Regions from separate parts of the Homo sapiens genome. Here region 1 is linked to region 2. The links come from fine-mapping of genetic effects on gene expression. A gene starts in region 2. The other region holds a variant in brackets. All regions are shown on one strand. Distances are from middle to middle.

Region 1 (12,623 bases), 84 kb after region 2:
GGTTTTATTGAATAGATTAAATGAGGTCAGTAAGATTAGTTAAAAATAGTCATTCCTTGTGGGTGTTGGACACAGCTTGAAAGGAGTGTTTAAAAAAAAAAAGCTAGGGAGGAAAAGAACAAGAAAGATAGACTTCGAGAGTGATAAGAGAAAAATACAGGGAGATGGAATGGAAACTACCAGGAAGGCCGGGCGCGGTGGCTCATGCCTGTAATCCCAACACTTTGGGAGGCGGAGGTGGGCAGATCACCTAAGGTCAGGAGATCGAGGCCAGCCTGAGCAACATGGTGAAACCCCGTCTCTACTAAAAATACAAAAATTACCTGGGTGTGGTGGCGTGCACCTGTAATCCCAGCTACTCAGAGGCTGAGGCAGGGGAATGGCTTGAACCTGGGAGGCAGAGGTTGCAGTGAGCCAAGATCGCACCATTACACTCCAGCCTGGGCGACAAAGCGACACTCCATCTCAAATTTAAAAAAAAAAAAGAAGAAGAAGAAGAAAACTAGTGGGAAAAAAGTGAGAGGAATACTTTTTTGAAATTGGTATCGGAAGGAACTGGAGAAGAGAAAACAACAGTGCCAAATGAGAAAAGAACAGGAAACTTAATACTAATTGGCATGCACCAGATACTTTTGTGTACATTTGCCTCTTCAATCTCCCGAAGAATCGTACAAAATGTATACTTTCTTCCCATGTTAAGAAAACAGGTATAGAGAACTTATTCAGGACTCATAGCTAGTGAGTGGCAAATCAGAATTGGAATCCAGAGTCCATGCTGTGGTCTCCTTCAGCAAGAGAATCAAGCTACCCAGATGATTCTCTTCTCATTGTTTGGCTTTGTAAAGTGTCACTTAGTTTTGTTCCCATAAATATAGAGGAAGTAGTTGGGTTAAAGTTGTGGGATTTGCACTATGCCTATACATTTTTATTTATGCCATTATTTTGAGAGGCTGATTATTGCTTTTTTAAAATGATGCACTGGTGAAGATGTGAAAGTAAAATTGCCACGTGGCATTATTTGCCAAGAATAAATGAAAAGGGTAAAAAAACAATTTTTTCTTTTTTTAAACATTTTTCAGAAAAGATACAATTACCTTTTTTAATAGGTGAGCGCCACCACGCCCGGCTAATTTTTGCATTTTTAGTAGAGACAGGGTTTCACCATGTTGGCCAGGATGGTCTCGATCTCTTGATCTCGTGTTCCGCCCACCTCGGCCTCCTAAAGTGCTGGGATTACAGGCATGAGCCACTGCGCCCGATCTACAATTCTGTTTTCTGTGTCCCATCCATACCAGATTATTGAACCCTCTGTGTGTATGTTTTTAAATCTTGTATATAATTCTACTTCCTTGACTTACAAGTCAACAATTAGCTATTGAGTTCTTTATAGAAGTTGGAAGTATTTTGAAATCTGAGATCTAATTCCTGGCCAGGTGTGGTGGCTCATGCCTGTAATCCCAATATTTTGGGAGGCCGAGGTGGGTGGATCACCTGAGGTTGGGAGTTCGAGATCAGCCTGGCCAACATGGTGAAACCCCATCTCTACTGAAAAATACAAAAATTAGCCAGGCATGGTGGCTGTCTGTAATCCCAGCTAATGGGGAGGCTGAGGCACAAGAATCTCTTGAACCTGGGAGGCGGAGGTTGCAGTGAGCCGAGATCACACCACTGCACTCCATCCTGGGCAATGGAGCGAGACTCTGTCTCAAAAAATAATAAATAAGATATGATTCCTGCCTGTTTTATCCAGTTAGAGAGACACACTACACATGAAATAATTGGAGAGCATGTAAATGTTTACCTATTAGTTCAAACTTAGAAAAAGGGAAGAATATGTTTTAGTTAGCAAAGTCTTAAACAAGACTGAAGTGGCAAGCACTGTAGCTCACGTTTTCTTTTGACTCACCTTTTTCTTTAGCTCCACCTTTTGTAACTTCTAGATTTGGGGCATGAAGTTCTGCCACTAAGGCATAACCAGTACCCAAGTAGGAAAGGATTATTGATCCCTGGAGTAAAGATTCCTAGCTTGCGGGGATCTCACTATTGATCCCCCGGAGTAAAGATTCCTAGCTCGCAGGAATCTTACTTGCACACTTAGGGAAAATACCAGAGGGAGCCACTAGCAACCGAAAAATGAAGGAAAGATTTAATTTCTCTACCCAGGTACAAATCCAATGCATAGTATAGTATATGTTATATGCAGAAAGGGCACTGGAGGTGTGAGAGCCCTTTGGGTAACAGCTCTGCTAGTTGTTACCTTCACACTTCTCTTTCTTCTTAATCTCTGGTTTCTCGTCTGAAAAATGAGATAATTGGACTAGATTAATAGTTCTCAGCCTTTTCTAGAACAACAAATTAGATTATCTCTGAAGTCCTTTTCCAAAATTTCATGCTTCCAGTCTCTCCCCGTGATTGCGTATTATCCCTAGGCTAATTAAAAGTGTGCTGGTTAATCAGTTTCTTTACTTTTTTTTTCTCTCTTTTTTTTATTCTGTGTTCAGGTATCATTTGACCAACAACTTGCTCTTAATCTTACTGCGATGACTGAAATCTCCAAAGAGGAGAGTATAGTAGTTATAGGTCTAGTAATAATAATCTTGTAAACAATTCATTATTTTTTAAAACTTAATGCTGTGTGCCTAATCAGTGTTGAGTATGACTAAAATGTAAATGAGAACCAAATATGACACTAACGCTGGCACTAAATTTTATTTTTACTTGTGTACTTAAAGTACTTTACTGGCCTGTTGGGAAATTGATTTGTATAAGATTCACACCTGGTTTTGGCAGAAACAGCTTTTTAAAGATACAATTAGGCTGACTTAAAAATGTTTTTTATTCCACAGAATGTATCTTTATTATGTCATTCTTACCGTCTCTCTGCCTTTTTTGACCATCATGTAACTACGCAGTAGTAAATCATGGGGTGCAGGCTGATGAATTAGTAGTCTTTGTAAAACTAAAATGTAATGAGCATAGGAAGAGACAGCTCTTCTGGTGAACATGGCAGTTTTCCGGTAATACCAGCCTTGATGAATAGGCTAAAGACAGCTGTGTACTATGGACATTCAACTTCACTGGATTGCCTGGCTTAGCTTTTCAGTTATTGTCTTGCCGTGAAACATGGTGTTGCACTGTACACATTTTAGAATAGTGGCAAGAATGTTCTTTAGAACTGCAGATAACCCAACAGAGAATACCATACCAATATATCGGTTTCTCCTGTTACATAGAGATTTGGTATTTCAGTGATGGTTATGGTTTTTGACTCACCTGTGTGTCAGTCCTGCTAGAGAGACAGTATAGAATCAAGAATTTCTTGATGTCTTTTTAAAAATAGAGATTATAATGGCCTTGCTAGTTGTCCTGTGAAGTGACAGACCCTTAATTAGAAATCTTTTAATCCTGCTTTCCATTTTACTTCTCCACCATTTATTTTTAACATTCATTCTCTGAAAATAGTTATGATTTTTAGTGTAATTGGCTATGTTTAAGAAATTCCATTTCAAAGTCTTAATATGTAACAATCTTCATTTTTTATAAAATTGAAGGACATTTTTGAGGCAAACTTACTTTTATAGCTCATTTTCTCCCTAGTTAAGGAGAATTCTCTGGTTTCATATAGAGAATGGCTAGCTCTGTGATACCCCACCCTCTTTGTGGCCTACCAGTTGCTGTTGTGTTGCTTAAAATTGCAGATATTCTCATAAACATGATGATTTTTGGCACAGGCCTTTCTTTGCTATTGATTTCAAAATAAAGTTGGGCAATCCAATTTGAACTACTTTAATAAACATAATTTAGCATTCCTGTAATGAGAAAGTATTTTCAAAAGATAACCAGATTTATTTCTAGGATTAGAGATGGCAAATACCAATGATAGTATTTTTCCCAAGAGCAATCACAGATTAATCTATAAATATGAGAAGTCGCATTATTGTACTTAATTCTTTGGCAACAAACAGCAAGTTTTTATTGTTTAATTGTATTTCCTCTCTAGAGATCACAATACTCTGGGTATTTTATATCCCTTCTAAAGGTCATTTGGGTTTTCAAATGGGAAGAATAGTCAAGCTAAGCTGGACTAAACCTAAGTAATATTTTTTCTCATCAAAAGAAGTTATTAATCTAACTGGGTTAGCATGAGTCATTCATTTTTTAGACATGATAAATGGGAAACATATCAAATCATTAGATAAATTCTGACCTGGAATTGAATTCCCCCTTTCTTAAAATCTTTTTAATTTGCTTTTTTCATAGACTCAGTATGGAACTCTTAACTGATAAGGGAGAGATTCTTGATCTGGAACCGTTCCCTGCCATTCTCCTTTTTTCTCTCTATCTAGGTAGCTGGTTCCATAGTGCCCGTCACGAGGGTCCATTTCAGTTTGATGACATTAGACTGCTTACACTCAGCTGGATGCCTTGCTGTTTGCAGCAACATGATTTTACAGTATGCTTTTCTCAAAGCTTTGCATTCTTAATGGAGATATCAAATGGTGTAATTCCAAATATAAATATGTTTATGACACTAATCATATGCTTTTAACAATAACTTTTTGATAACTTATTGCCCTGTAAGTTAAACCTTACACGGAGTGACTGTTGCCATCAGAAAATCCCCTTTCACCTGCTAGAGAGAGTGAAAGTAGTGCGTGGCCTCCACTTTTCAGTTAACGAGTAGCAAGCTTCTAGTAGGGGCTGCTTATCTGACCCATGTGGGGTCTTGGGCCTTGTTACTTTCCTGGGTTC[G/A]TCCCTTCAGCTGGAAAGGCTGTTGAAAACACTTGCCAGGAAACAGTAAAGCTGTGAGAGAATCTTCTAGTCTTAGATATAGAGAAATGAGTACCAGTTGATGCTAACACGATACTTAGACTTTGAGGGGCTTCCATCCAAGCTTTGGCATGAATCTGTTAGACACGGTTTTCTTCACTCCTCTGATAATCTTTTTTTCCAGAATGGTTTTTTGTTGTTGTTGTTGTTAACAAATTCTAAACATCCAGTGTTACTTTTTGTTTTGTTTGTTTTGTTTTGTTTTGTTTTGTTTTGTTTGCCCTTCAGGAAAGTCCTTTTTCGAGTAGGTATTGATTGTTCCCTGGAAACTCTCAGCAGTGTCTGTGCAGGCTCTGTGCATGCTTTGTATGAGTTCGGCTTGAACAATGCATTTGAAGTCACCTGGGATGTCCAGTTCTGGCATGTCTTCATTGATTGTGTTTTTAAACATGTTTCATGTTTCATGTCATTTTCCAAACCTCACTTTACATCTTACTCAGAGAAGTTAATCAAGGAATGAAATTTCTAGGGGGATAGGGATGATGAGGGTGGGTTGGGGGCTTGAGTGAAGTCAACTTGGGGTATTTGCTTTAAAGTGTTTTCTAAAGCAGTTCCTAACAGTATTTAGAGATTCCCTGGGATGTTTGTGGCTCAACTTATTCTGGACAAAGTGTGTGTGGGGGTGGTCTTACTGAGATTTGCATTCTTAATGCAGGACAGGCTCTAAATTTCATCTGTACTCTAAATTTGTGATTGAATCCAAGAAGATAACAGAGACAGTGCTCCTGTTGTAATGTTTCTGGCAAGTGCTCCCTAAAATGCACATCGAATTCTGTTTTCTGGGCCTTTTCTCCAATGGTGCTAGGAGATACCGTTGATTTCTGCAGCTCTTCTCAGTGGTGGGAAGAAGTCTTTGGGATTGTTGAGCAAGGGGCAGCTGGACCATCCACTAAATTTTTTTGTTCAAGACACATTAGAGACCCTCCTGTATATCTAGTAAGTCATAATAAAGGTGCTTGGGAAAGCCTTAAATTTGAAGACACATGGAGGCGGTAGAAAATTAAACTTGTAAGAGGAGAAAAACATGCCATTAGGTAACGCAGAGTTGTAACTACTGGCTAAGACTCAATGGAACTTCCACTTGCTCTAAAACCAGGGAAATCTTAGATAACTGGGTGTGATCTACCTATAGATCTACCTAGTCTATAGGTAATAATTTCCAGAAGGAGGATCTTGCTGTCAGTTGGGGATCCTCTGGTTTGGTCTGTACCAAATTGTGAATACTCTTGCTGTGTTGTACCCAGTTGCTTTATATTAATACTGCAACTTGAAACGGGGAGGGTGGGGGGACAATGGGGTGGGGGAGGGAAGGGAGTGGGACGATAAGTCTTTTGAAGACATCAGCTCACTGTGCTGAGAGAGGGACCAAACTCAAGGAAACCTCTGATCTATACATTCAACTGCTGCATTTTTTTATAAATACATGTAAATGTCCTGTTGTAATATTTGATCTTGGAAATAAAAACAAAAACTTTTCAGTATTAGTTTTTTTTGTGTTGTTGTTTTTACAAGATAAGACTCTGGATATTACTTTCAGTAATACAATTGAGATTCCAAAAGCTTGCCCCCTCACGTTCTCATTTAGGTCAGTTACTATTGATTGACAAAGGTTACTTTGTAGTCCCGTTGTTATGTGTAACGTTTGCTAGCCTTTTTTCTGCTCTTTGTGGTATGTCAAACATTCATGGTAAACACTCTGTAAATATTAGTCCAGTTGTTACAGAAACATTGGGTAAGCTAGGCTTGTTAGGTAAGTATGATTCTGTGTTTGACATACTTGGGCGAATATTCAGTGTCTGTTCTTTCAGACCAGCAGTAATTACTAATGGTTAATTAAGGACTTAGCTTAATTGAAGGAAAGATAATTACTAAATTAATGGGCAAAAAGGAGATACGATTATATGGTATGACAGAAATTGTTATTGCTGCTGGATGCAGTGGCTCATGCATGTAATCCCAGCCCTTTGGGAGGCTGAGATGGGCGGATCACCTGAGGTCAGGAGTTCGAGACCAGCCTGGCCAACATGGTGAAACCCCGTCTCTACTAAAAATACAAACATTAGCTGGGTGTGGTGGCGGCCGCCTGTAATCCCAGCTACTTGGGAGGCTGAGACAGGAGAATCGCTTGAACCCAGGAGGCAGAGGTTGCAGTGAGCCGAGATCGTGCCACTGCACTGCAGCCTGGGCGACAAGAGTGAAACTCTGTCTCAAAAAAAAAAAAAAGAAAAAAGCCGGGCGTGGTGGCAGTGCCTATAATCCCATCTACTCGGGAGGCTGAGGCAGGAGACTTGCTTGAACCTGGGAAGTGGAGGGTGCAGTGAGCCGAGATAGCATCCAGCCTGGGTGACAGAGTGACTCCATCTCAAAAAAAAAAAAAAAAAAAAAAAAAAAGGGACTGCTGCTTAGCTCACAGTTCTACAGTGATGGGTTTGTGCCCCCCCTTTTCTTGTGGAACCATTTCTCATCCCCATGCTCCAGCCTCATGTGCCAAATAATAGGGATGTATGTGATGGGGAGCAAAACAGATACAGCCTCTGCCCTCAAGGAACTTACTTTCTAGTTGGAAACAGACGATAAACATACATGGAAAAACAGATCTGATTCTAATAGAATGAAAAAAAAAAAATAGAAAAGGAGCCAGTAGAGAATTCTTTATTTTTTTAATTTTGAGACAGAGTCTCGCTCTGTTGCCCAGGCTGGAGTGCAGTGATTTGATCACAGCTCACTGGAAGCTCCGCCTCCCAGGTTCAAGCAATTCTCCTGCCTCAGCCTCCCGAGTAGCTGGGACTACAGGTGCCCGCCACCACGCCCGGCTAATTTTTGTGTTTTTAGTAGAGACGGGGTTTCACCATGTTGGCCAGGCTGGTCTCGAATTCCTGACCTCAAGTGATTCACCTGCCTCGGCCTCCCACAGTGCTGGGATCACAGATGTGAGCCACTGCGCCCTGCCTGGTGTTTCTTCTCACTGCCTGCACCTCCTTGATTGGGTCTTTATGGTGGTGATCCCCAGGACCTGGCCCTCTAACTCTCCCTCTGTGATCTCATTCTGATAGTACCAACCGCCATGTATAATGCCAATGATTTCTCACATCTCCAACTCCAGCCCGTCTCTCCTCCAAGCTTCAGACTCACATGTCCGACTTTTTACACTGCGCCTATAGTTGGAAGTATCACACTTACATCTAAGATGACGCCTCCCCACCCAGACCTGCAGTGACACCACTACCTATGAACCTGCCAGAAACTTAAGTCATTTTCTTTTGCTTATTCCCCCATCTCTAATCCAACAGCAAGTCCTTTAACTTCTGCCTCCAAAATGCATAAAAGGTAACCCTACTTTTCAGTCTATTGCCATTACTCTGGTCCAAGTGACCTGCTTTTTATCGTGACCACTGCAGTAGTCTCTGCTCTTACTCTCTTCCGACCCATTCTCCGCATACTGGCTTCTCCTTCCACTCAGAATGCCCAAGCTCCTTGCTTCATGCCACCCCCTTTGCCCCCTGCCTGCCAGCTGACTGGCCTTCTCTCAAACCCCAACATCAAACACCTTCCTGCTCCACAGCCGAGGCATGTCTTCTGCTTGAGTTCTCCTCGTCTTAGCACGGATCACTTTCTTTTATCCTTTAGGTCTCAGCCTAAAAGTAAACTCCACAACGTTCTATTTAAAGGAGAAATCTCAGCCGGGCGCAGTGGCTCACGCCTGTAATCCCAGCACCTTGGGAGGCCAAGGTGGGCAGATCACTTGAGCTCAGGAGTTCTAGACCAGCCCGGCCAATATGGTGAAACCCCGCCTCTACTAAAAACACAAAAATTAGCCGGGTGTGGTGGCACGGTTGCTTGTAATTCCAGGTACTCGGGAGGCTGAGGCAGGAGAATTGCTTGAACCCGGGAGGTGGAGGTTGCAGTGAGCCAAGATGGTGACACTGGACTCCAGACTCCAGCCTGAGGGACAAGAGCAAAACTCTGTCTCAAAAAAAAGAAACAAAAAAACACCAGAGTGGGGTGTCAAGGGAGCCAAGAGTAAGAATGTTCAAGAAGGATCCTGTGGCTAACTATGTCTAGAGTCAAGTAAAGAGGACAGTGTAGCGTTCATCAGAGACACGAAATCACTGGAGACCAAGAACAGTTTCAGTGCAATGTTGGAGGCAGAAATCTACTTTGGGTGGGTGGAAGTTTACGATTTTTATATACTAATGAGAAAACCCTAACTTCCTCTTCAGTGGTCTGGTATAAAAGGCAGCTCTTTCAATATCTTCCCTTTTTTTCTCCCTCCAATTAAGGGAATGTGCTCTCTTGTCAGCTTTCAGTTGAGTTTAGAGCCCACCCACAGGAGGCTGATTAGTCCTGTCGCTCTCATCTGGGGAACACTAGAAAACAGCTGGCCTGGTTGTCTGGCTGTATCATCTTCTCTTCTGCCAGTGAATTCTATTTCATCAACTTCCTCTATTTCTTGCTCAAATACCACCTCCAGATCCCCAAATATACCCCAGAATGGAACATCTGTCTAGCCTGTTCTCCTAAGTCTTTATTTTTTGTTTTTTTTATTTGAGACGGAGTCTCACTCTTTCTCCCAGGCTGGAGTGCAGTGGTGTGATCTCGGCTCACTGCAACCTCCGCCTCCCGGGTTCATCACGCCATTCTCCGGCCTGAGCCTCCCGAGTAGCTGGGACTACAGGCACGTGCCACCACGCCCGGCTAATTTTTTGTATTTTTAGTAGAGATGGGGTTTCACCGTGTTAGCCAGGATGGTCTCGATCTCCTGACCTCGTGATCCACCTGCCTCCGCCTCCAAAGTGCTGGGATTACAGGCGTGAGCCACCGCGCCAGGACTTTTTTTGTTTGTTTTTGTTTTTTGTTTTAAACAGAGTCTCACTCTGTTGCCGAGACTGGAGTGCAGTGGCGCGATCTCGGCTCACCGCAACCTCCGCCTCTCGTACTCAAGCAGTCCTCCCACCTCAGCCTCCCCAGTAGCTGGGACTACGGTTGTGCACACCACGCCCAGCTAATTTTTGTATCTTTAGTAAAGACGGTTTCACCATGTTGGTCATGCTGGTCTCAAATTCCTGGCCTTGAAACCGCCTTTGCAAAATGATGACTGAGACAGTGAAAGAGATCCAACCTAACCGACTCCATCTTGCGTCTAACCTCCAAGCTGCCCTTGTTCATTCCTGGGCGTAGGCTGAACTAACTTGGGGGGAAACTTAATTTATAGTTTAAAACAAAGACGGTAACAGCCCTTTCCCAAAGCAGACCTCCTTCTTGCCGGGGGACTAGACTAACATTAGTCACAAGATTAGAAATGATGGTTTAGGAGCCATGCAGCTGGAGGCTACAAGATTCTGACCCTCCCTACACTGCTCCTAAGATCAGCGCTTGAGATACTTTGCAGACCCTGCACTTGATGGATCAGCTGGCACCACCCAGGTGGATAAACTGGCTCATCTGATCTTGTGGCCCCGACCCAGGAACTGACTCAGCGCAAGAAGACAGCTGACTCCCTGTGATTCCATCCCTGATCAATCAGCACTCCCGGCTCACTGGCTCTCCACACCCACCAAGCTGTCCTTAAAAACTCTGCTCCCCGAATGCTGGGAGAGACTGATTTGAGTAATAATAAAACTGCGGTCTCCCGCACAGCCGGCTGTGCGTGAATTACTCTTTCTCTATGGCAATTCCCCTGTCATGACGAATCGGCTCTGTCTAGACAGCGGGCAAGTGAACCCCTTGGGCGGTTACAGCCTCAAGTGATCCACCGGCCTCTGCCTCCCGAAGTGCTGGGATTACAGGTGTGGGTCACTGGCACCTGGCCGTCTCCCAAATCTTTCAGCCTCAGGAAGCCTTTTGTGGCATGACTGGTTTTCTCAGCCCAGGCCCTGTTCGTCATTTATGTCCTCAGACTCCCATTTGCTCCTCCCTAGGAGCATCACCGACAAAGTAACAGCAAGTAGCTCCATCTCCAGTAGAGCCACACTCCGCGGTTATTAACACGTCTCAAAGAGGTGAAGCTTCAGTGCTTTCATGGCAGCGACCGTGCCTCTGTTGCCCTAGGAGGCTCGCCACATGGAAATGAAGAGATAGTCCCAACGCTAGCCTTACGAGACCCGTTTATCTCAAGTACATGATTTCTTAAAGAAGTGTCTTGTTCAGCCGGGCGCGGCGGCTCACGCCTGTAATCCCAGCACTTTGGGAGGCCGAGGCGGGCGGATCACGAGGTCAGGAGATCGAGAACATCCTGGCCAACACGGTGAAACCCCGTCTTTACTAAAAATACAAAAATTAGCCGGTTGTGGTGGCGGGCGCTGTAGTCCCAGCTACTCGGGAGGCTGAGGCAGGAGAATGGCGTGAACCCGGGAGGTGGAGCTTGCAGTGAGCCGAGATCGCGCCACTGCACTCCAGCCTGGGCGACAGAGCGAGACTCCGTCTCAAAAAAAAAAAAAAAAGAAAGAAGTGTCTTGTCCATAAGATAATCATTGAATTAATCATCACAAGTTTACCCGAAGGAGCAAAAACCCACAGCTGCCATCACCAGCCCCACACTAAGTTTGACACTTTAAGGGATTAAAAACAAATTCCAGCACTTTCCTTTGTCCCACAAGCAACATTTTAATGATATCTACATAAGCCATTGGGTTGGACATGGAGATATCATCTAAAAATCTGAGTGCTAGGCCAGGCGTGGTGGCTCACGCCTGTAATCCTAGCACTTTGGGAGGCCGAGGAAGGCGGAACACAAGGTCAGGAGTTCGAGAGCAGCCTGGCCAACATAGTGAAACCCTGTCTCTACTAAAAATTAGAAAATTAAAAAATTAAATTAGCTGGGTGTGGCAGTGTGAGCCTGTAATCCCAGCTACTGGGGAGGCTGAGGCAGGAGAATCGAGTGAATCCAGGAGGCAGAGGTTTCAGTGAGCCAAGACTGTGCCATTGCACTCCAGCCCGGGTGACAGTACGAGACCCCATATCGAGAGAAAAAAAAAATCTGAGTGATATACGGCAATCAGCCATTCAGTTATTCTGATTGCCTAAATATGAGATGTTCTAACAGACACTGCATGCGAAATCTCTTTTGCTGGCCAGGTGCAGTGGATCACGCCTGTAATCCCAGCACTTTGGTAGGCCAAGGCGGGTGGATCACTTGAGGTCAGGAGTTCGAGACCAGCCTGGCCAACATGGCAAAACCCCGTCTCTACTAAAAATACAAAAATTAGCCAGGCATGGTGGTGGGCACCTGTAATCCCAGCTACTCAGGAGGCTGAGGCAGGAGAATCGCTTAGAACCTGGGGGTGGAGGTTGCAGTGAGCCAAGATTGCGCCACTGCACTCCAGCCTGGGCAATAGAGCAAGATTCCGTCTCAAAAAAAAAAAAAAAAAAAAAAAAACAGAAATTCTTATATAGAAAGCAGCTCATAAACAGTTTAGAAGACTTAAACTGTGCTTGCTTTGACAACACATATACTAAAATTGGGACGATGCAGATTAGTTTAACGTGGTTCCCGTGCAAGGATGACACGAAAATTAATGAAGAGTTCCAATTTTATTTTTAAAAATGGAACTGTGATAGCCAGTCATAACGATCCCTTCTCATGTATGTGCATCAGGGGTTTCCTCAGTAATCGTTTGTTTTCATCACTGGAAGTAAAATCTCTGTGCAGAGACTGTGTTGCATGAATTATGCATTGCACGAATTAATTCATTCATCAAGTCATTCTTGAGCTTCTACCATGTTCCAAGCTCTGTGTGAGGCTCAGAATATACAGAGCAGAGTAAGAGTTAGTCCCTGCCTGCAAGGACCTCACA
Region 2 (12,623 bases):
TTTAATTTGTTTTACTATGGTGAATTACATTGACAGAGGTGTTTTTTTTTTTTTTTTCTGGAGTTTCTGGTGTCCAGGCTGGAGTGTGCAGGGTGCAATTATAGCTCATTCAGCTTCAAACTCCTAGACAATTGGGCTCCAGTGGTCCTCCTACCTCAGCCTCCTAGGTAGCTGGGATTACAGGGGCGAGCAACTGTGCCATTTGTAAGAGCTTTTTACTGTAAAATTATGCTTGCATTCCTGAAGTAAACCCAATAAAAAAAATATGTACATGTATGTGTGAATATGTGGATTTCTAAATTCTGATTTAATTTAAGATATCTGTTTCAGTAGCCATGAGTGAGGATGAATTCTCATTTATTATTTTGTTTGATTTGATTTCAAGGTTATGCTACCCTTATAGAATGAGCTGTTTGTTCCCATTGTTCTTTATCTGGAAGCATTTGTATAAGTTTGGGATAATCTGTTTCTTAACTTTTTTGGTAGCAATCTCCTGTAAAATCACTGGGGTGTGGTCATTTGTGTGGCAGATTTCATTTTGTTAATGGTCATAAGTCTATGCATAGTTGAGTTCCATTTTGTTAATTATTTCTTCTAGGAAACTGTCATTTATCTATTTCCTAATTCATCAGCATAAAATTATTCATAATATTCTCTTATTTTTCAAGCCACGGCTATGTCTGCTATGTCTTTTTTTCATAATATTGTTTGTGTCTTTCTCTTTGTTCTTAATCTGTCAAAGGTTTTATTATTATTTATTTTTTTATTTTTTGAGATGGAGTCTCACTCTGTCACCCAGGCGGGAGTGCAATGGCACAATCTCGGCTCACTGCAACCTCTGTCTCCTGGGTTCAAGTGATTCTACTGTCTCAGCCTCCCAAGTAGCTGGGATTACAGGCGCCCGCCACCACGTCCAGCTAATTTTTGTATTTTTAGTAGAGACGGGGTTTCACCATGTTGGCCAGGCTGGTCTGGAACTCCTGACCTCAGGTGATCCACCCACCTCGGCCTCCCAAAGTGCTGGGCCTACAGGTGTGAGCCACCACACCTGGCCTGTCAAAGGTTTTACATATTGTTATTTCAGAGAACCAGCTTTTGGTTTTATGAATCCTCTCTTCTGTATTTTGTATTCTATTTTGTCAATTTCTGCTCTTTAGCATTTTTTCTTCACATTTTTCCTTGTCTGCTGAGTTGTTGTTCCTTTATTAACTTCTTGATGAAATGCTGAGCTACTTATTTTCCAGTCTTCTTCTCTAATATAACCAGTTAAGCTTATATATTCTCCTTTAGCTTCTGTTAAAACTCCATCAGTTTCGGGCCAGGCTCTGTGGCTCACCCTGTAATCCCAGCACTTTGGGAGGCTGAGACAGGTGGATCACTTGATGTCAGGAGTTCAAGACCAGCCTGACCAACATGGTGAAACCTTGTCTCTACTAAAAATACAAAAATTAGCTGGGCATGGTGGCCTGCTCCTGTAATCCCAGCTACTTGGGAGGCTGAGGCAGGAGAATCGCTTGAACCCAGGAGGCAGAGGCTGCAGTGAGCCAAGATCCTGCCACTGCACTCCAGCCTGGGCGACAGAGAGAGACCCTGTCTCAAAAAACAAAACAAGATGAAACAAAAAAGACCCAAACAAACCAAAAAGCTCCTCAAGTTTTGGAATGTATTTCCATGACCATTCCATTTTACATTTGTGTCCATCAATTTCCTCTTTTCCATCCTGCTCTCTGCCCCGGGGCTGCCTGTGGGAACTACAAGGGGCTTCTTGCTGTGCCCTCTGTCTTCCATTTGGGTTCAGCCATTGGGGATTCCTGGCAGGAGACAGAAGAGGAGATCGAGGTCAGGGTATCTATGTCCCTGAGCTCCTCTCTGAGATTGCCTCAAGCTGCTTATTTATGTCCCTTGACAGAAGGTCATTGCTTCTTGCATGGTGGTTTGCTCTGCAAAAAAATCTCACTTGGGATTTCTCTAACTTCTCTCTGTTCTCATCTCTTTGGACGTATGGGTTGTGACAGTTCTACTGTTACTAGTATGAGATCCTCCACTGTTCCTTGTGATTTCCACATATCTTACCCAGGCTGGAGTGCAGTGGTGTCATCATGGCTCACTGCAGCCTCGACCACCTGGGCCCAAGTGATCCTCCCGCCTCAGCCTCCAGAGTAGGTGGGACTACAAGCTTGCACCACCGCACCTGGCTAATTAAACTTTTTTTTTCTTTTTTCAGAGATAGGGTCTCCCTATGTTGCCTAGGCTGGTCTCAAGCTCCTGGGCTCAAGTGATCCTCCTGTCTTGGCCTCCCAAAGTGCTGGGATTACAGGCATGAGCCACGACACCCATCCTTCATATTCATATTCTTTTTTTTTTTTTTTTTTTTTTTTTTTGAGACGGAGTCTCACTCTGTTGCCCAGGCTGGAGTGCAGTAGCTCATTCTTGGCTCACTGCAAACTTCACCTCCCGGGCTCAAGCGATTCTCCTGCTTCAGCCACACGAGTAGCTGGGATTACAGGCACGCACCATCACGCCCAGCTAATTTTGTATTTTTAGTAAAGATGGTGTTTCACCATGTTGGTCAGGCGGGTTTGGAGCTCCTGACCTCAGGTGATCCCCAGCCTCGGCCTCCCAAAGTGCTGGGATTACAGGTGTGAGCCACCGCAACTGGTCAGTCCTTCATATTCTTTAATAATCCAAAAAAGCTTTTCAAGGTTGTATTATTCATTACTTCTTTATTTATTTTTCCCAGTTCCCTGGTTATCCATGGAAACTGTCTCATTTTCTTCCCTTCTTTCCCCCCCTCCCCCCGACCATGGAATCTTTTTGGCCACCTGTCTAATTTTCTTTTATCTTATTTTTTAATTTCTAAAAAAATGCCTTCTGGAGTTGTGGATGCCACAGACTTTATCACCTTTTCCTGCACTGTTAATCAAAATCATATCATTAAATCTGAATTATAAGATTTTGGAAATAAACCTGATAAACCTGCAGAGCTCATTACTGGCCTCTCCATCTGATGGAGGTACAGTAATCACTGTGTTTAGTTTTTGTAGTTAATGGTGTTATACCATTTTACGTGGAGCTTGATTTTGCATGGCTGGCTAGTGACTCAGCCTTTAGGATGAAGGGAGACAGAGGTAACACTTTCTTGATTTGGCTTTCTTCCCTTGCCTGTTTTTGCACCTCTGCATCAAATGTGAAGGAATCAGCTGCCGAAATTTATGACTGATCCCTGCCCTTCCTCAGCCCATCTAGAGAACTGCAGCAACCTGGAAGGCAGTGCCAGGACCAATCTGTCATTTAACTTAAAATACATTTTTTTTTTTGAGACGGAGTCTTGCTCTGTCACCCAGGCTGGAGCACAGTGGCATGATCTCGGCTCACTGCAACCTCTGCCTCCCGGGTTCAAGTGATTCTCCTGCCTCAGCCTCCCAAGTAGCTGGGATTACAGGTGCCCGCGCCACCACAGCAGCTAATTTTTGTATTTTTAGTAGAGATGGGGTTTCGCCATGTTGACCAGGCTGGTCTGGAACTCCTGACCTCGGGCGATCCGCCCGCCTCGGCCTCCCAAAGTGCTGGGATTACTGGAGTCTGCTTTCTTTTACATCAATCATATCTTCTTGAAACTACAGCCCGACTGGGTGTGGTGGCTCACGCCTGTAATCCCAACACTTTGGGAGGCCGAGGCGGGTGGATCACTTGAGGTCAGTAGTTTGAGACTAGCCTGCTCAACATGGTGAAACCTCGTCTCTATTAAAAATACAAAAATTAGCCAGGCGTGGTGGCGTGTGCCTGTAATCCCAGCTACTTGGGAGGCTGAGGCAGGAGAATCGCTTGAACCCGGGAGGCGGAGCTTTCAGTAAACTGAGATTGCACCACTGCACTCCAGCCTGGGCGACAGAGCGAGACTCCCTGTCAAACAAAACAAAACAAAAAACTATACCCCTTGATTTGACATGGCTCTTTCTTAATTCTCCCCAATAGCATGTTTACTCTTAGGATGTGTCAATTCTTCAGACAGCTCATCCCATCTTTTATTGGGCCATTTTCCTATGAAGATGCAAAATATGTGGGTGGAGGTTGGAAGGTGGGAGGCTAAAACAAACGGAATCACTTGGAATCTCTTTTAACTTTATGGGCAAGGTGGGGGATTATTGGATTTGAGCGCACCCCACTCATGTAACTGTTTTGCAAAATACTTAAAATTATTCAAGGAACACACGAATATCTTTTTTTTTTTTTTTTTTTTGAGATGGATTCTTGATATATTTCCCAGTCTGGTCTCGAACTCCTTGCCTCAAGCGATTCTCCCACCTCGGCCTTCCAAAGTGCTGGGATTACAGTCATGAGCCACCGCGCCCGGCCAATAATGTTTGTTTAAAAATAAAAAGATAAATAAGAAACTCGAAGTAAGGTCCGCTTTGACCATCGTCCCGATCGTTCTCTTCTCTGGAGGTAACCGTTACCAGCGTTTTGAGCACACTTTTCCAGTCTCCTTTCTATATGTTTTCTTTCCTCTACTGCATATACAGAGTTTCTTTTTATACAAATGACGCCTCTTGGGGTCTCATTAAGACCCTAACGGGAGACGTGATGGCCAATTTATTTAAGGAAAGCAGACTAAACAATCGTTTATGAAAACCTACTGGGTGGCAACCCCGCGCTAAGTGCTTTCTTTGGCATGAAGGGTTCTGGTATTTCACTCGTCGCAATCGGTTAGCTAAGCCATTAGTTTAGAGGCTGGGGGGCGAGTACGGGGAGAGTCGCTTCAAAGCGAGGAGGTAGGGTTTGCATTTTGATGGGACCTGCAGGAAACCTAATAGAGTGCGGTACAACCGCAAAACAGAAAAATGCTGTCATCGGCAGTTGGCTCTGTCAATAAAGCTTGCGAAGCTGAAATGCGAAGAACTATCTGCCGAGACCGAAGCTTCCTTCGGAATCTAGGAATCGACACCGCGCCTGCGAGGCTAGCCTTGGAGCCCGGAGAGGAAGGCACCAGCAATGGCAAAAAGGATGCACTGAGCAGGCAGCAACCGAGCAGCCAACCCGAGAGCTGGGAGCGCGCGGGCCCGGTCGGAAAATGCGCCTGCGCAGACCGCTGGGGACGGGAGGGGCGGGGCTCGAGGGGCGGTCAATGCGCCTGCGCACACCGCACGGCGAAGTGGGGGAGGGCAGTCCGTGTGTGTCTGTGTTGTTGTTCGGCGGCGGCGGCGGCGGTAAGATGGCTGCCCACGGGGGCTCCGCGGCGTCCTCGGCGCTGAAGGGGTTAATTCAACAGTTCACCACCATTACCGGTAAGAGACGCGGTTACCGGAAGGTGGAGAGTGGGGTCCGGAGCGGGCAGCGGGTCTGCCCCGGGCTTCCCCTTACCTTCAGGCATTCCTCCTTCGGGCTTTACCCACAGCTGCCGTCCTCCCTCCTGAGGAAGAGGCGACGACGGCGTCGGGGTCTCCGGGTTCAGGCGGGAGACAGCCCCCCCCCGCTCCCGATACCCTCGTTCTCTGTCTCCTAGTAGCGTGGAGGGAGATCCCCCAACCCCCCGCCAGCCCAGACCTGGGAATGGGCCGAGTCCGTCCGCCCCCGCCGGCCCGGGGACCCGGGGGCGGGAGGAGTAGGGGGCCGCACCCGGGCCACCGCCCTCCTCCTCCTCCTTCATCATCTTCCCTTCTCTGTGCAGCCCTGCGGTGCGGTGCATCTCCTCACCTCCTTTTTTCCTTTCTTCCCCGGCCAGGTCATTCTGCCCCGGTCCCCGGCCTGCCCTTCCCCTTTCTGGGCCCCTCGGAGCCATCGCCGTGGCCCTGGCGGGTTCGGGCCCTCCCGCCTTCACGGCAAGGCCGGTGGGTTCGGCCGTGCCTTTACACTTCACGGGGGACAGGCCGCCAGAAGCGGGGGGTGCTGAGGAGGACCTCAGGGACTGAGGCTTTGAGGGAAGAATGAGGGGGAACCCCCAAGCTGAATAGGGGAGGCCTGGAAGAATCCAGGGTGGCGTTTCCCACCTCCCCATAATAAAATCATAAAGACGGAGACGATGGCGCCGGGGCCTCCTGCTGATAAGATAGGGATGGCGGCAGAAACTTCTTTGAGAGAAAATCTGTTTCTGGGTGTCGGTATCCCCGAAACCCTAGGCCTAGGTTCTCTCCCTTTGGACCCCTGCGAAGGACACACGCAGATCCTCTTACCGCCTGGAGGAAAGGCCCTAAAGCCATTCTATGAATTCTCTCTGTCTTGTTTCTCTCTGATGGTGCTGAACTTTTCTTGCATGAGTTATTAGAGGGCGGAGCAAATGATGAAGTTCTCTGTGGAGTGATTTGAGAGAAGAGTACTCCAATGTGCCTGAGTGTAATTTTGCCGTTCTAGTTTGTCGTTTTGGAAGGAGGTCAGAATGTTAGTTCCCTCTCAACGGATCTATACTTTATCTCGTAATTTGTTAGATGCGGAGAATGTTTCCACTGTTAATGTTCCTAGAGTTTAACGTGCAATATCTGGTTAAGTAAAATTTTATATTGTTTTAACTACTACAGGTTGTATACTAGTTACCGTTTTATATTAAAGCAAGTTTTATTTTTTTGCTTTGCAATGATAACGAGATATTTGACGCATTGTTATCTAGCTTGTGGGCATGGAACATCAGGTCAAAGTAAAGTAAAATTTGCAATAAAATTGGGGTGAGGAGTTGCATGATAACTTCTCTTAATATTTTTGAACTTTGTGATTGGATTATTGAAGATATAAAGGATTGGATTATTATATTAAATATGTAAAGGATTTCCTAATGTCTGACAAATCATTGCTATGGAGAAGATTATTGTGTATATAAGTTAGTGTTGCTGCATTATGCTTATATAGAAAAATCTTTGCAGTGAATCTGATAGAGAAGTGAATATCATTATTAATCCTTTAGATTTCCTAGAGATGGTTTATGATGCCACTTGGGCCTGGCGCGGTGTCTCACGCCTGTAATCCTAGCAGTTTGGGAGACGGAGGCTGGAGATTCACATGGGGCGAGGAGTTGCAGACCAGCCTGGGCAAAACATAGTGAGGCCCCATCTCTACAGAAATAAGAAAATGAGCTGGATGTAGTGGCACCGACATGTAGTCCCAGCTACTGGGGAGGCTGAGGTGGGAGGATTGCTTGAGCCTAGGAGTTCAAGGCTGCGGTGAGTAGATCATACCACTGCGCTCCATCCCTGGCAACAGAGCAAGATCATTTCTCAAAAAGAAAAAAAAAGCCACTTATTATTATTATTATTATTATTATTTTGAGACAGTCTCGCTGTGTTGCCCAGGTTGGAGTGCAGATCTCCCAGGCACGATCTTGGCTCACTGCAACCTCCACCTCCCGGGTTCAAGCGATTCTCCTGTCTCAGCCTCCCGAGTAGCTGGGACTACAAGCGCCTGTCACCAGGCCCGGCTAATTTTTGTATTTTTAGTAGAGGCGGGGTTTCATCATGTTGGCCTGGCTGGTCTTGAACTCCTGTCCTCAAATGATCCACTCACCTCAGCCTCCCAAAGTGCTAGGATTACAGGCGTGAGCCACCGCGCCTGGCCCTAAAAGCCACTTAATTAATTTTCAGTTTCTTATGCTAATTACTACTCTTCCCAAACTCTGATTGGTTTAACGCCACATTACTTCTTCTGTTGCAACATTTTTATTAGGTACACACAAAAACCGAAGTGTGGTGAGTTGAATTGACTCACTTAATTGCTTTAATTCTGTTTCTGTTCGTCTACGTAGCTTGATTGCTGGATCAAGTTGGAGTCCCTCAATCAGTAGACAGTGGTATCTGGAGATCTACAGAGCGAAAATACCTTTGAGTGTTCTTCAAATATTGTGAATTTCTATTGATAATTTTTGGGATTCTTTTTACAAGATAGTGATTAACCGTTAGAAACACATGATTGATTTCTTTTTGCCTTTTTTACATGTCTTAAAATTTTTTTGGGGTTCTCTCCACATACGTTTTAATCGTAGTGTTTATAATTAAAAGGTATTTTATATTTATTTTAGTGACCTTAATAGCTTATGCTCTGATTTCACAAAGGTTTTACTTGGAAGCTCAATATTCTTGTAAAAACAAATGCATCATCAAAAATGTGAGTCCTTACTTTTTAGGCAGGAGCAAAAAAAAGAAAAAGAAAAAATAAAAATAAATGTGAGTCTTATCTTTTTTTGGCATTTAGAAATAGAACGGAAAATTGAAAGATTTTAGAAAAGTCTTATTTCTTACTGAATAGAACAGATCTCTCTCTGATTCAGTGAGTATGAAATAATGACTGATGTTTTTTTTTTTTTTGAGACGGAGTCTCGCTCTGTCACCCAGGCTGGAGTGCAGTGGCGTGATGTTGGCTCACTGCAAGCTCTGCCTCCCAGGTTCACACCATTCTCGTGCCTCAGCCTCCCAAGTAGCTGGGACCACAGGCGCCTGCCACCACGCCTGGCTAATTTTTTGTATTTTTAGTAGAGACGGGGTTTCACCGTGTTATCTGGGATGGTCTCGATCTCCTGACCTCGTGATCCGCCTGCCTCGGCCTCCCAAAGTGCTGGGATTACACGTGTGAGCCACCGCGCCTGGCCTAATGACGGATTTTTGATTTTTTTTTTTTTTTTTTAAGAGATGGAGGTCTCCTCTCTTTGTTGCCCAAGCTGTTCTCCAGTTTCTGGGCTCAGCCATCCTCTTGCCTCAGCCCTCCCAGTAACTGGGGCTACAGGTGCACATCACTGTGCCTGGTTCAGTAATGGCTGATTAAAAAAGATTATTAAAAAGACAATATCATAAAAACTTTTTTTTTTTTTTTTGAGACGGACTGGGTCTCACACTGCCACCCAGACTAGAGTGCAGTGGTGTGATCACGGCTCACTGCAGCCTCTAGGGTAACTTTCTTTATTTTTTGTGGAGATGGGGTCTCACTTTGTTGTGCAGGCTGGTCTTGAACTCCTGGGCTCAAGCAATCCACCCACCTTGGCCTCCCAAAGTGCTGGGATTACAGGCGTGGGACACTGCACCTGGCCGAAATAATTTTGATAAAAGGGAAAAGAACTAATTCTCCTTCTCACAACAGCAATATTTATTTTACATATTATCTTCCACTTCTTGTTTATATGCTTATTTTTACATTGTGGATCATAGTATATACAATTTCTGAGATTTCTTTTTCTTTTTTTTTTTTTAAAGACGGTCTTGTTCTGTCACCCAGGCTGGAGTACAGTGGCACAATTATAGCTTGCTGCATCCTTACCGCCTGGGCTCAAGTGATTCTCCTGCCTCAGCCTCCAGAGCAGTTAAGACTACAGGCATGTGCCACCATGCCCAGCTAAAATACACGGTTCTGAAATTTTCACTTAACATTATGCTACAAACCTTTTTTGCATGGTCAGACTGATAAGCAGGTAGCCAAGAGAAGTGATGACCTTTGAAGTAACCACACTGAGAAGCTGTATACAGTATGGTTTACCATTGATGCTTGCTTTTTGTTTGTTTTTGTTTTTGTTTTTGTTTTCGACAGAATTTCACTCCGTCACCCAGGCTGGAGTGCAGTGGCATGATTTCGGCTCACTGCTGTCTCCGCCTCCTGGGTTCAAGCAGTTCTCCTGCTTCAGCCTCCGCAGTAGCTGGGATTACAGGCTCAAGCCACCATGCCCGTCTGATTTTTGTATTTTTAGTAGAGATGGAGTTTCACCATGTTGGGCAAGCTGGTCTCAAACTGACCTCAAGTGATCTGCCCTCCTCAGCCTCCCAAAGTGCTGGTATTATGGGCGTGAGCCACTGCAACCGGCCCCACTGATGCTTTCTGTGTCATTTAAAGCTACATAAGAAAACCAGTCTTGTTACTTTTATAGTCATTCCACATTTTACAATACTACTGTTTGATCTCCTCTGATATTTATCATACATGGCTTTGAATTACTGTTGAAAACTCAGAAGTCATATCAATTCTCAAAACATGAAGGAAAAATATGCAGCTGGATCTATTCTGAAAGAGCAATTTTTAAAAATGTTTTGAAGCCAGGTGCGGTGGCTCACGCCTGTAATCCCAGGCACTTTGGGAGGCCAAGGCGGGTGGATCACCGGAGGTCAGGAGCTTCAGACCAGTCTGGCCAACCTGGTGAAACCCTGTCTCTCCGAAAAATACAAAAATTAGCTGAGCATGGTGGTGCACGCCTGTAGTCCCAGCTACCCAGGAGGCTGAGGCAGGAGAATCTCGTGAACCCAGGAGACGGAGGTTGCAGTGAGCCGAGATCCAGCCACTGCACTCCAGCCTGGGCGACAGAGCGAGACTCTGTCTCCAATTTTAGTATATGTGCTGCTGAAGCGAGCACAGAGCGAGACCCTGTCTCAAAAAAAGAAAAAGTAAATAAAAGTAAAAATGTTTTGAGCCATGGCAGTATTCCATTAGCACCAACTTTGGGCTGACATCCACTACACATATACACTGGTGCACATGTGTAATCAGAATAATTCATGGAGTGAAGGTGAGGGATACATAGACACTATAGAACAGGTGAAAAATAAGCTAGCAGTCTAAGGACAAATGTGAGGGCATAGAAAGTGGAGGCTAAGAAGAGTACAAGAGGTTACTGGTACGGAAATTCATAGAGCTTTGTGCATAGCGGCAATAACATACTTGAGAAAATTATAGAACCTCAGTTGTAGAAGAGACCTTAATCTTTCAGATGGTTGATGAGTGCATATTTATTATAAAAATTAGGGGCTGTCATGTTTGTGGTATTTAACTTTATGGCCAATTTCCATTCATGTTCTTTTTTTTTTTTTTGAGACAGAGTCTCACTCTGTGGCCCAGGCTGGAGTGCAAAGGTACGATCTTGGCTCACTGCAGCCTCCACCTCCCGGGTTCAAGCGATTCTCCTGTCTCAGCCTCCTGAGTAGCTGGGATTACAGGCATGCGCCACCACGCCCGGCTCATTTTGTATTTTTAGTAGAGACGGGGTTTCTCCATTTTGGTCAGGCTGGTCTCGAACTCCCGACCTCAGGTGATCCTCCTGCTTCGACCTCCCAAAGTGCTGGGATTACCGGTGTGAACCACCGCGCCTGGCCTCATTCATATGCTTTTGTACAGAACATTTCCTTTCTCTTGGGTTAATATTAAACTATGATTAAGTTCTCTGTGTCTGGAAAGGTGGTCACAGTATTATAGATGTTAAGAGAAAACTTCAGGAATTTTAAGAATAGTTTCAATAGGGAATACATTTCAGAATTTCTTTTTTTTTTTTTTTTTGAGACGAAGTCTTATCCTGTCACCCAGGCTGGAGTGCAGTGCTGTGATCTTGGCTCATTGCAACCTCCGCCTCCCCGGTTCAAGTGATTCTCCTGCCTCAGCCTCCTGAGCAGCTGGGACCACAGATGCGCGTCACGACACCCAGCTAAATTTTTTGTATTTTTAATGGAGATGGGGTTTCATCTTGTTGGCGAGGCTGGTCTCAAACTCTTGACCTCAGGTGATCCACCCACCTCAGCCTCCCAAAGCGCTGGGATTACAGGCTTGAGCCACCATGCCTGGCTGAAGTTTCAGAAATTTAAGGGAGGTAATTTTGAGTTGCGAATGGAATCTTACTAGTAGATTCATTTATTGGTAGACTGCTACGTGCCAGGCATGGTTCACATCTTAAGGATACAACTGTGAGCAAGGCGTGGTGTCTGTCCTCAGAAAGCTTAAAGGTTAACAGGAATAGAGACACACGAATAGGTATTAGAATACAGTGAGAGAATGGTAAGGAGCTAATACTGGAGCACAAAAGAGGGAGGTCAAGAAAACCTTCCCAGAATAAATACTTTTTTATCTAAAATCTGGAAGATGTTTCTTGCAGGAGAAACATGCAGAGACTTGGAGGGGAATTGGGCAGACATGTATACAGACAGAGATGAGAGAGGGGAGACAATCGGTTTAGGGAATTGATAATTCCAAATGAGTAAAGCACAGCTAGTGCAATAAATGGACCTCAAGAGATAAATGGGAGATTGGGTTGGGCCTTATAAGCCATGTTAAAAAAAATCTTGTCTTTATTCTGAGAATAGTGGGGAGTCAAGGGTTTTAATTAGAGGAGTGAGACTGGGCACTGTGGCTCACACCTATAATTCCCGCACTTTGGGAGGCTGAGGTGGGAGGCCTGGAGCTTGAGATCAGCCTAGGCAACATAGTGAGACCCCATCTCTACAAAATGTATTAAAATTTTATTTATTAAAAAAGGAGTTACATCTGATTTGACCTTTTTTTTTTTTTTAAAGAAAGAGTTACTTGGCTATAATGGAGAAGAGATAGGCACAGAGATCAGTAGAAGGCTGTTATATTAACCCAAGAAAGATAGTGGTGTCCTGAAAAAAGTTAGTGGCGGAGAAGTGGACTCCAAAAGGTATGGGAAGAAATCAGAGTCAAAATGAAGTTTAGGATTCTGTTTTGGACACCTAGGTATGTAACAGTGCTATTTATGAAGGTATGGAATAGCAGAAAGGTGTGGGGAGAAGATGGTTAGCTCAGTTTTGGATAAGTTAAGGTGCTGCTAATAGGACTTCCAGATGGAGCTGTTGAAGCAGATGAATATTTGGGTCTAGAAAGAAGAGTGAGAAATCTGTCATATTCATGGCAGTTAAAGTTATAAAAATGGGGCTAGGTGCGGT

What was found. PIP is the estimated chance that this variant, and not a neighbour inherited with it, causes the effect.
Region 1: its variant is fine-mapped to the expression of UBXN7 in whole blood (TOPMed, PIP 0.93).

What each region holds. Positions count from the first base shown.
Region 1 is chr3:196,341,350-196,353,972 of GRCh38, reverse strand. UBXN7 (UBX domain protein 7) reads left to right here. Exons shown (of 11, transcript NM_015562.2): 11 at 1-6,311. It also overlaps the pseudogene RNU6-910P. Among named protein-coding and RNA genes, the nearest start is that of TM4SF19-DYNLT2B, 9.2 kb to the right of the region's middle. The variant G/A (reference allele first, on the strand shown) is at 4,753.
Region 2 is chr3:196,424,989-196,437,611 of GRCh38, reverse strand. UBXN7 (UBX domain protein 7) reads left to right here and starts at 5,185. Exons shown (of 11, transcript NM_015562.2): 1 at 5,185-5,285. The coding sequence starts at 5,213. It overlaps UBXN7-AS1 (UBXN7 antisense RNA 1), which reads right to left and starts at 6,227. Exons shown (of 2, transcript NR_046745.1): 1 at 6,171-6,227; 2 at 4,578-5,410. RefSeq lists enhancers at 4,868-4,947, 4,880-5,653, 6,028-6,077, 5,654-6,428 and silencers at 4,988-5,237, 5,258-5,317.